Homo sapiens: one gene and its partners. The protein of the gene in region 1 interacts with the protein of each later gene in a biochemical or structural test. Each region holds a gene or a part of one and is shown in the gene's direction. Other genes may lie near its edges. The genes, in order: ITGB2, ICAM1 and PRKCE.

Evidence for each region.
Region 2: the proteins of ITGB2 (region 1) and ICAM1 form a complex in vitro, tested with the Homo sapiens proteins (4 studies listed by BioGRID).
Region 3: of the proteins of ITGB2 (region 1) and PRKCE, one has a biochemical effect on the other in vitro, tested with the Homo sapiens proteins (one study listed by BioGRID).

What each region holds. Positions count from the first base shown.
Region 1 is NC_000021.9:44,900,300-44,904,050, reverse strand, and holds part of ITGB2 (integrin beta-2 isoform 1 precursor), read left to right. Parts: intron 1-515; coding exon 516-686; intron 687-2,317; coding exon 2,318-2,559; intron 2,560-3,575; coding exon 3,576-3,731; intron 3,732-3,751.
Region 2 is NC_000019.10:10,269,440-10,273,190, forward strand, and holds the start of ICAM1 (intercellular adhesion molecule 1 precursor), read left to right. Parts: upstream 1-1,680; 5' UTR 1,681-1,720; coding exon 1,721-1,787; intron 1,788-3,751. UniProt on the Homo sapiens protein: ICAM proteins are ligands for the leukocyte adhesion protein LFA-1 (integrin alpha-L/beta-2).
Region 3 is NC_000002.12:46,144,568-46,148,318, forward strand, and holds part of PRKCE (protein kinase C epsilon type), read left to right. Parts: intron 1-525; coding exon 526-664; intron 665-3,751.

The sequences.
Region 1 (3,751 bases):
ACAGCTACACAACCGCACGTGTGACTGAGACGCGGGCGAGCGGAAGTCCAGGGCTGGGATGGAGAAAGGGGCCTCCTGGGGACGGCCCGCGTGGGCCTTGCTGGGAAGTGCCAGGTTCGTGTGATGCCTGTCTATGTGGCTGCTGATGAGGGCGCCCGTGGGACTGCAGGCATGGGGCCGGGTTAGGTGTGAGCCCAGGTGAGCCGCTGCCACTCTCAATGAAAGGCGTCCCCAATGTCGCTGGCGTCAACTCTAAGCACCCCAGGCGGGTTTCAGTGTCACTGCGAGGCACATGCCTGCGTCCGGGAGTCATGTCCTTCCTCTGAAACTCCAGCCTGCCTGGATGTCCTGTGTCTGGTCCTCAGCTCTCCTGCCAGGCGGGGAGAGGGGAGGTCAGGAGGATTTGGGGGCTGGAGGAGAGGGTGCCAGTGCACAGCCCGCTCGGGGCCACACGCCCCCAGACACCCTGTGTGAGATGTGAGGTGTGGCTCCTTTTGTTCTGTCCCCACCGGCAGGCCAGGCAGCAGCGTTCAACGTGACCTTCCGGCGGGCCAAGGGCTACCCCATCGACCTGTACTATCTGATGGACCTCTCCTACTCCATGCTTGATGACCTCAGGAATGTCAAGAAGCTAGGTGGCGACCTGCTCCGGGCCCTCAACGAGATCACCGAGTCCGGCCGCATTGGTGAGGCCCAGGCACTGCAGGACAAAACCCAGTCCTTTCCCAGACCCTGGCCACTCCTGCCTGTGGCCCACACAACTCCTCGCACTCAGGTCCCCAGGGTAGATCTGGGGGCCCCAGATGCAGGTCCCCCCAGGGCATCCACAGGGCTGCAGTCGGCCTGCCTCCCTGCCAGGGGCCACACCCAGTCCCTGGCTCCCCAACACTTGTAGACATTGTCCAGCCCTCCACTTCCCCTTCCATCTTCTACTTCCTTTATTTATTTCTTGGTATGTTTAAAAGACAAAATTCTGACAGTGCCAATTATTAAACATTAAAGACCACAACACATATAGACGGCACAGCGACGGCAGCACTGAAGAAACCACACAGCAAGCTCTGCTGGGCCAAGGGCTCCGCTCTACACCAGCACTGCCTTGCCACAGAGCAGGTCTCCAGCACACGTGTGTGTCAGTCACAGCGCATGTCTTCCCCGCCGGCCGTGGCTTCTCACATCGGCACTCTGCCACCTTCCCTACATGCGGGGATGCACACATGCACGATAACACACACACACACAAGCAAATGCATGCTCACACAAATGCACGCTCACACACAAATGCACGCTCATGCACGTGAATGCACGCTCACACACAAATGCATGTTCACACATGCAATGCACACTCACACACAAATGCATGCTCAAACGCAAATGCACGCTCACACATGCGAATGCACACTCACACATGAATGTATCCTCACATGCACAAATGGATGCTCACACACGCGAATGCATGCTCACACACAAAAGCACACCCAAACTCAAATGCACACACACGTGAATGCATGCTCACACACGTGAATGTATGCTCACACACATGCTCAAACACACAAATGCATGCTCTCACATGTGAATGTATGCTCACACATGAATGTATGCTCACACGCAAATGCATGCTCACACACGCGAATGTATGCTCACATGCACAAATGCACGCTCACACACGTGAATGCACGCTCACACACAAATGCATGCTCACACACATGAATGCATGCTCACACTTGCATGTGCACACACATGCACACACAGTCATACACACGTGCAAGACCACATGTGCACACAGACATGCTCACATGCACACTCATGATCACCCATGTATGTCTTCACTCACATGTATAAATCGTACATAAACACACATGCCCACATATGTACCTGGTCACCTACGTGAACTAGGTGTGTCCATACCTGAACATGCTCACATGCATACAGGAATACGTGCACACACAGTTGTGCTACGCATGTACACACTCATGTTTACACATGCAGATGGCTGCACACACAGATACACATACGCACCTGTTCACATGCCCACATGTATACCTGGTCACACACATACATGCAGGAACACACATGCATACACTTATGCTCATCCATGTACATTGCACACTCCCAGGTTCACACACACGCCCACATACGTTCACATGTGTGCTTGCACAACGCACATGCTCACACACACACTCCACATGTGCCATCTTGCTTTCTCCACCTCCCTGCTAGGAGAGAGGAAACAGGCTTGCCCTCGTGCCCCTTTGAAGCTGGCCCTCCCACCTGGGCCCAGCCTGCCACCTCCCCAGCCCCTCCATGTGCCCTGCAGGCTTCGGGTCCTTCGTGGACAAGACCGTGCTGCCGTTCGTGAACACGCACCCTGATAAGCTGCGAAACCCATGCCCCAACAAGGAGAAAGAGTGCCAGCCCCCGTTTGCCTTCAGGCACGTGCTGAAGCTGACCAACAACTCCAACCAGTTTCAGACCGAGGTCGGGAAGCAGCTGATTTCCGGAAACCTGGATGCACCCGAGGGTGGGCTGGACGCCATGATGCAGGTCGCCGCCTGCCCGGTGAGGCCGCTGCCCCTGCTTGGGTCCCCACGTTCCCCCAGTGTGGGGGGCTCTGTCAGGCGCTGTGTGGGGGCAGGGGGGTACCCTGGCCGGCAGGTCGTCTGAGGGACTCCAGCCTGGGCCTGGGGAGAGCAGCTCCTCACCCTGCTGCTGCCCATGCAGGAAAGGGCAGGAGGAAGGGAGGGTGACCACGAGGGCTCGAAAATCATGCGCTGATTTCATTGTTTGCTGTGAGTTAAATTTGTGACCCTGGGCAAACCTTATGAAGCCTAAACATTTTGCGAGCGGCCAAGGGTGGAACAGGGCCGCTAGGCAGCAGGTCCCGTGGTTCCTGGGGTGGAACCACCCTCCTCCCTCCAGGCCGGGTGGGCGCTGGCTGCCCAGTGTGTGTCGCTCTCCACGTCCCGCCCACCCAGTTTGTGACTGTCAGCCTAACAGAGCAGCCACAGTCCCTGGGCCATGTTGAGGCCACATGCACTGTCCTCCCCTCACAACCCACCTTAGCTCTCCTGCTTCCCTGCAGTCCCAGCGCAGACACACTGCTCACGAGTGTGAGGTCACAGCCTAGGACACGCACGGCCCCCACATGCGCCTGCCAGGGGCTGTCAATGGTGGACTCAAGGCCTGCTGGGCCCCTCAGGCTCGTTTTCCTCCATGTTGCACTCGTTCTGCGTGTGGCCCACACGTCTGCGAGGGTTTTTCCCCTTGGGGATGGTTTCCTGAGGGTTTGTTCCCAGCTCTGAAGTGCAGGGACCGCAGCCGTGTCTCTCTCCTTGCCTTTCCACACGTGCCTCCACTCCCTGCGCCTCACATGTGCACGGGGTGTTTGAGGGCCGTTGTCTCCTCCTGGGCGTGGCGTCTGGGGGAACACAGCTGGGTCCCTGAGACCCAGGGGAAAGGGGGACCCACACCAGCCTCCGGGCCACCCCACCAGCTCTGCATCGTCTCCTCTGCTCCAGAGGGCCGGGTCTGGGAAACTGAGGCAGGTAACCCTGCCCCCCACGCCTTCTTCTCAGGAGGAAATCGGCTGGCGCAACGTCACGCGGCTGCTGGTGTTTGCCACTGATGACGGCTTCCATTTCGCGGGCGACGGGAAGCTGGGCGCCATCCTGACCCCCAACGACGGCCGCTGTCACCTGGAGGACAACTTGTACAAGAGGAGCAACGAATTCGTAAGTCCCCACCCCAGGCA
Region 2 (3,751 bases), on another chromosome or scaffold:
ATGCTGGGATTACAGGTGGGAGCCGCGCCCAGGTGGATTTTTGTCTGACTCTGTTCATTCCTGTGTCCCCAGTACCTGGAAGGACGCCAAGCACACAGTAGGCGCTTAAAAAACATTGAGCCACATGTTGAGAAAAGAACGGCACCATTGTGGCTGCAAGTGGGACTTGGGCCGCGCGGGGGAGCTCGCGCACCTCGGGCCGGGGCAAGAGCTCAGTGGAACCCGCCCGAGGAAGAACCCGTGGCGCAGGATTTTCCCAGGCCTTCTGAGGACCAGGGGCGTCCCCCGTCCCACCCTGTGACTTTGCTCAGGCCGTTCCGGGGCGGGAATTCAGAACTCCTCAGCCCCCCAAGAAAAAAATATCCCCGTGGAAATTCCTTGGGAATGACCGAGGCGGGGGAAATATGCGTCTCTGGATGGCCAGTGACTCGCAGCCCCCTTCCCCGATAGGAAGGGCCTGCGCGTCCGGGGACCCTTCGCTTCCCCTTCTGCTGCGCGACCTCCCTGGCCCCTCGGAGATCTCCATGGCGACGCCGCGCGCGCCCCACAACAGGAAAGCCTTAGGCGGCGCGGCTTGGTGCTCGGAGACTTAAGAGTACCCAGCCTCGACGTGGTGGATGTCGAGTCTTGGGGTCACACGCACAGGCGGTGGCCAAGCAAACACCCGCTCATATTTAGTGCATGAGCCTGGGTTCGAGTTGCCGGAGCCTCGCGCGTAGGGCAGGGGTTCGAGCGCCCCTTCTCCCTGCCTCGCCTCTGCGCCTGGGGGCTGCTGCCTCAGTTTCCCAGCGACAGGCAGGGATTTCGAGCGTCCCCCTCCCCTCCCTCGTCAAGATCCAAGCTAGCTGCCTCAGTTTCCCCGCGGAGCCTGGGACGCCAGCGGAGGGGCTCGGCGCGTAGGGATCACGCAGCTTCCTTCCTTTTTCTGGGAGCTGTAAAGACGCCTCCGCGGCCAAGGCCGAAAGGGGAAGCGAGGAGGCCGCCGGGGTGAGTGCCCTCGGGTGTAGAGAGAGGACGCCGATTTCCCCGGACGTGGTGAGACCGCGCTTCGTCACTCCCACGGTTAGCGGTCGCCGGGAGGTGCCTGGCTCTGCTCTGGCCGCTTCTCGAGAAATGCCCGTGTCAGCTAGGTGTGGACGTGACCTAGGGGGAGGGGCATCCCTCAGTGGAGGGAGCCCGGGGAGGATTCCTGGGCCCCCACCCAGGCAGGGGGCTCATCCACTCGATTAAAGAGGCCTGCGTAAGCTGGAGAGGGAGGACTTGAGTTCGGACCCCCTCGCAGCCTGGAGTCTCAGTTTACCGCTTTGTGAAATGGACACAATAACAGTCTCCACTCTCCGGGGAAGTTGGCAGTATTTAAAAGTACTTAATAAACCGCTTAGCGCGGTGTAGACCGTGATTCAAGCTTAGCCTGGCCGGGAAACGGGAGGCGTGGAGGCCGGGAGCAGCCCCCGGGGTCATCGCCCTGCCACCGCCGCCCGATTGCTTTAGCTTGGAAATTCCGGAGCTGAAGCGGCCAGCGAGGGAGGATGACCCTCTCGGCCCGGGCACCCTGTCAGTCCGGAAATAACTGCAGCATTTGTTCCGGAGGGGAAGGCGCGAGGTTTCCGGGAAAGCAGCACCGCCCCTTGGCCCCCAGGTGGCTAGCGCTATAAAGGATCACGCGCCCCAGTCGACGCTGAGCTCCTCTGCTACTCAGAGTTGCAACCTCAGCCTCGCTATGGCTCCCAGCAGCCCCCGGCCCGCGCTGCCCGCACTCCTGGTCCTGCTCGGGGCTCTGTTCCCAGGTGAGTCGGGGTGGGGATTGCCGTCGGGCCAGTTCTCCGAAGCCCCGGGAGGACCGGCTCCCGGGTCAGGTCATGCATGCTTAGGTAGCTGTTTATGGGAAGGAGGGGCTAGAGACAGCGATTGAAAGGCAACAGCCAGTAGGTTCGAATCCAGACCCTGCATACCTCCACGTGTGGCCTTGGGCTATAGATTGCAGCTTTAAAAAAGGGTAGGGGGTTGGAGATGGAGGGGAGGGGCGGGCCTCGTTTTGTTGCCCAGGCCGGTCTTGAACTCCGGGGGTCTAGCCTTACCTCCTGCCTCAGCCTCCCGAGTAGCTGGGATGAGAGGTGTGAACCACCGCCTTGCTTGGCTAGATTGCGTCTCTTACAGTTTCTCAGCTGTAAAACGGGAAACGTTATAGCGGCCACCTGGCAGGGTATCTTGGCCCAGCGCAGCACCTGGCCCCAGGACTCGATCATGATGGTTTGGGAACTTGGCTCTGTGCCAACCCAACAAGGCTTAAGGGACCCCCACCCCCCTCAAGATGTATATTCTGTTCCTCATCCTCTCTGCCCCTGGGGAAGTCCAGGGCTGCTTCTACTTGGGGGAATTCCAGAGCTGACTTATCCGTGGCCCAAAGCTGAGAAGTGGGACGCCCCAGCACACCCTCCCCCAGCTCCAGCCCAGCTAGGGAAGAGGGAAGGGGTCAGAGGGTCTTTCATGGTGGTGTAAGTTTGGGGAACCAGGAGGGTGGGAGATTGACAGCTTGGTTAACAGCTCAACAAAGCCTGAGATCCAGGCCAGCACGGTAGTTCATGCCAGTAATCCCAACACTTTAGGAGCCCCAGGCGGGCGAATCACTTAAGGTCAGGAGTTTGAGACCAGCCTGGCCAACATGGCAACATCCCGTCTCTACTAAAAATACAAAAATTAGCTGGCATGGTGGTGGGCGCCTGTGATCCCAGCTGCTCGGGAGGCTGAGGGAGGAAAATCCCTTAAGCCCACGAGGCTGAGGTTGCAGTGAACCAAGATTGTGCCACTGCACTCCAGCCTGGGAGACATAGCGAGATTCTGTCTCAAAAAACAAAGCGTTCTGATCCGGACTCAGACCCAGATCGCACTGCTTTCTAGCTGAGTAACCATTTCTCTCTATGAAATGGGAATGGTCCCAGAATCTCCCTTGGAGAATGTATGGAGCCAGTGTCCTCACACCCCCATCCAAGATAGAACAAATCTGAGACAGGAATCTTTGAGTGAGGCAGTGCTGGGCTCAGACATTTTTTCCCACCTTCGGAGGCAGCAGAATCTGAGGGACCTGATCCAAATAAGCCCCTTCTTTCTTTCTTTTCTTTTCTTTTTTTTTTTTTTTTTTTTTTGAGACGGAGTCTCACTCTGTCGCCCAGGCTGGAGTGCAGTGGCGTGATCTCGGCTCACTGCAACCTCTGCCTCCCAGGTTCAAACGATTCTCCTGCCTCAGCCTCCCTGAGTAGCTGGGACTACAGGCATGTGCCATCACACCCGGCTAATCACTGTGTTAGCCAGGATGGTCTCGATTTCCTGACCTCATGATCTGCCCACCCTGCCTCCCAAAGTGCTGGGATTACATGCGTGAGCCACAGTGCCCACCCCGTAAGCCCCTTCTTTCTTACCTGCAAGGTAGCCAGTTGCTACCCATCCTGTGCTGAGTTACTTGTATTAGCAAGGGATGGGGTGGCTATACTCACCCACCTTACAGATGGGGAAATTGAGGCCCAAAGAGGGGGAAACTACGTGTCTCAGGGAGTGAGGAGCCAGTCTGATTCCTGGAGGGCTGACTGTCTCCACCTGACTTCTTAGGAGGGAGGAGGGCACCAACTTCACATTAAAATCTGGTTGGACACAGTGGCTCACACCTGTAATCCTGGCATTTTGGGAGGCTTAGGCGGGAGGATCACTTGAGGCCAGGAGTTTGAGACCAGCCTTAGCAACATAGTGAGACCCCATC
Region 3 (3,751 bases), on another chromosome or scaffold:
GGAAGCCCTCACTGCCTGCACTAGCTGTTTGTGGTCTCCCGCTCTGATGCACATTAGCTCTCATAGTGTTCTATAAAGTAGTGCCTGACTCTTAGGTGGTTTTAACCGTTTCGTTGATGTCCCTATGTGTCATGCTGGGAACCCCAGCTGATCCCCATGGTTAGTTCATGAGGGACAGGGGTAGATGCTTCTTTCTTTCATAGCAGGATCTCATTAATATGAATGTGGGTGCATAGCAGGGCTTCTATATATACCTACTGACTTAGCTCTATTAAACCACAGCAGTCTTGATATATTCCTGGGGTTACAGAAGTTCCTCCCTCTTGCTGAAGAAAGTGGAGGTGCCGTTAGGGGCTGACTAACATGAGAGAGAGCCCCTGGACTGAGATGGGTTTCAAGAAACACAAGCTTCTTTCAGGACTTTTTTGCTGGAGATTTCCCTAAGATAGGCACATACCTCCAACTCAGGAAGACTATATTGGGGTGAGTGACGTATTGACATTATGGTCCTGGCCTATCTTGCAGGGATTTGAAACTGGACAACATCCTTCTGGATGCAGAAGGTCACTGCAAGCTGGCTGACTTCGGGATGTGCAAGGAAGGGATTCTGAATGGTGTGACGACCACCACGTTCTGTGGGACTCCTGACTACATAGCTCCTGAGGTAAGACCTGTGTGCAAAGGTTCACCTCCTCCTGGTGCCAGGACCGAGGCAGGGGTCCAAACCCATGCACTGGGGTCATCTAGTGGTGCTGGGGGAAGGCTCTGGAAATCCAGGATGGATTCTAGGAAGGAGGGAGAAAAGGAAAGGAAAAAAGTTTGCTGATTGATGTCTGTCAAGAAGTCCTAGTGTTGGGGAGATGATGAGTGAAATGAGAGTAACAGGCTATTTCCCAAACCCGGGCAAGTTCACACTGAACATCTCTTTCCCATCCTAGTCCAGAACCACCAATAAATCTAGGACCAAGAAAAACGTGTTGACTTTTATTATTGTTTTCATGTCTTTAAAATCAGAACAGGGTGGGCACAGTGACTCACATCTGTAATCCCAGCACTTTGGGAGGCCAAGGCAGGTAGATCGCTTGAGCCCAGGAGTTCAAGACCAGCCGGGGCAACATGGTGAAACCCTGTCTATATAAAAAATACAAAAATTAGCCAGGCATAGTGGTGCAAACCTGTAGTCCCAGCTACTTGGGAGGCTGAGGTGAAAGGATCAATTGAGCCCAGAAGGTTGAGGCTATAGTGAGCCATAATTGCACCATTGCACTCCAGCCTGGGTGACAGAGCAAGACCCTGTCTCAATAAAAAAAAAAGTAAAAAATAAAATCAGAATAAAGGAGCATCATTGATCATGGGAGCACTTCACTTTATCAGCTACAATTTGCTAACAGTAAAACTAGGAACTGTTTGCTATTTCCTGCATAGTGGCAGTTCTATGCTGTGAGTACACAGGATGGAGCAGGAAGAGGAGAGTGACTGTGCCTCATTATATACAGATATCAGAGATGTTCACTGTGAACCACTCCAATAGGTTGCCTTTCCTGAAAGTTGTTTGGGATGTTTTGCTCAGCATGAAGTGTTTGTTTGCCTTATTCCTGCCCAAACTGAGAGATAACTAGTGTGATGTGATTCAGATTTAAGACATGGCCTGTCATAGACAATCAAAATGATCTTCATGGTTCTGAGACATGTAAGATAGGAAAGAAGTACCAATCCCCACTAAACATCGCCCATGGCGGATAGGTATTAGCACATTCAGAGCTCATTTCTTTCAGTGGGCATTGTTTGAGCACGTGCTAGGCACAAAGCAATGTGGAGATAAAGAACTGACTGAGACACTTGTCCCTATTCTAAAGAAGCTTTTGGTCTAAAGGGAGTGATAGATAAGTAAACAACTAATTAAGCAGAATAAATAGGCACATAAAAGAAGATGGTATCCTCAGGGATCAGGAAAGGCTTCTTGGAGCACCTGGTGGATGAATTGAGTTGTAAAGAATGAGGATTTCCTTTGACGGAAGGGGTGGGGAGGGTATTCCTGAAAACAACAGGATTGGAACGGGGGCAGGACAGGAAAGGAGGTTCAGTGTCCCTGGGCCCTGGATCCTTTGAGGGCAGGGTCTGTGTTTCTAATCTGGGTACTGCCAGGATCCGGCACACAAATCAGGATCTTAGAAAGGTTTGTTAAAAAATGACAACTTATGACATTCCAACATGAGCAAAGGCCAAGGGACAAAAACATCTTGGTCTTTTCCAGGACAGTTAAAAAGTGTAGCTAGATCATAGGGTTTCCTGGTGCTCATAGTAATGAATGAGATTGGGATAAAGACCCAGTGAATGTGGCTTTGATCCTGTAGGATCTGTGGACCCACTCAGGGTTTCAGTGGAGGAGAGTCCTAGTCAGATCCATCCCAGGAAGAAGGAAGGCCACAGCTGTGCAGATCAGAAGGCAGGGAGTGAGGGACTGATGGTCAGGAGGCTTCACAGACCACACAAGACAGGGGAGGCCTGAGGAACATCTCGAAGTGAAGGTGATGAGTAATAGGTAGTTTCCCTTTAGAACCTTTATCTTCTAAGAGATCTAAAGAGTAGGGATTTCAGTCTTTCTGCAAATGTATTTCCTTAGCAAGAACACTAGGAATTCAGCCTTCAAGGAGCAACAAATGAAAGCAAGAGCTTTCGACAGGGAACTGCTTTTCTCGTGTTCTTCGTTCATTCTTCATTGTCAGAATACTTAGTTCCAGTTCCTCTCTAAGTTGATGCCATCATTCATTCTTCATTGTCAGAATACTCAGTTCCAGTTCCTCTGTAAGTTGATGCCAGAGCCTAACAGTTGACAGCCCATGTTATAGTTAAGGACCCAACCCAAGACAGAACATTCACTTTATAATGAACAAAATAGCCACTCAGCTTTCATGAAAAGCAGTCCATTGGTGAGACTCACAATGAACAACTCTGATCTCTGTTCACAATGAAGCACAGACACTCTTCCTTCCTGCTCTGGCCTTCGTGCCCACCGTGCAGAAACATCTCTGCACTGGCAATGACAATCCCTGGTCTTGCTGTAGGCAAATTACAGCTGATAAAGGTATTGCTGCCTTCATCGAGGGCTACTGGGAAGATTAAATGAGATTATGCCTCTAAAGCATTAGCCCAGTGCCCAGCCCACAGGGAGTGCTGGCTAAATGGTGGCTTCATGGTTATCATCATTGTTGGGTTGTGTGATGGGATAGGAAACGCAATCCTGAGAATTGAGTCTTGAGTCCAGATTTGACCACAAATGTACACATGAGCATTTGATGACTTGATGAAGTCACAAAATGTTTTTGAGTCTCAGGTTTCTCATCTTTCACATGGGAGCCATAACTCCTTCCCTACCTACCTCATCAAGCTGCTTTGAGAATCTAATGAGATTAGAGCATGGAAATGCTTGAGAAAGCAGAAGCCTCCATTCAAATGGGAGAGGTGGTAAGGTGCTGAGCTAACCTCAAAACCAGAGACAGCTTTGGAGGCATGAGGTCTGCCCCAAGGCTTATCTTCCTGCCACATGATATGCCCCATGGCACCCCCTCTGCTTTCCCACTCCCAGCCCCTGCTTCCCAGGAAGTGGCCACCAGCCTTTGGTAATAGCATCATCAGGGCCAATGCCTTCTCCCTTCTCCCTTCTCCCGAGCTCTGACGCACTTGAGGGGTTGGCTCCAGGTGACTTCCCGTGACATGGAAGCCTTGCCCTTCTGCCCAGATCCACTGCCGA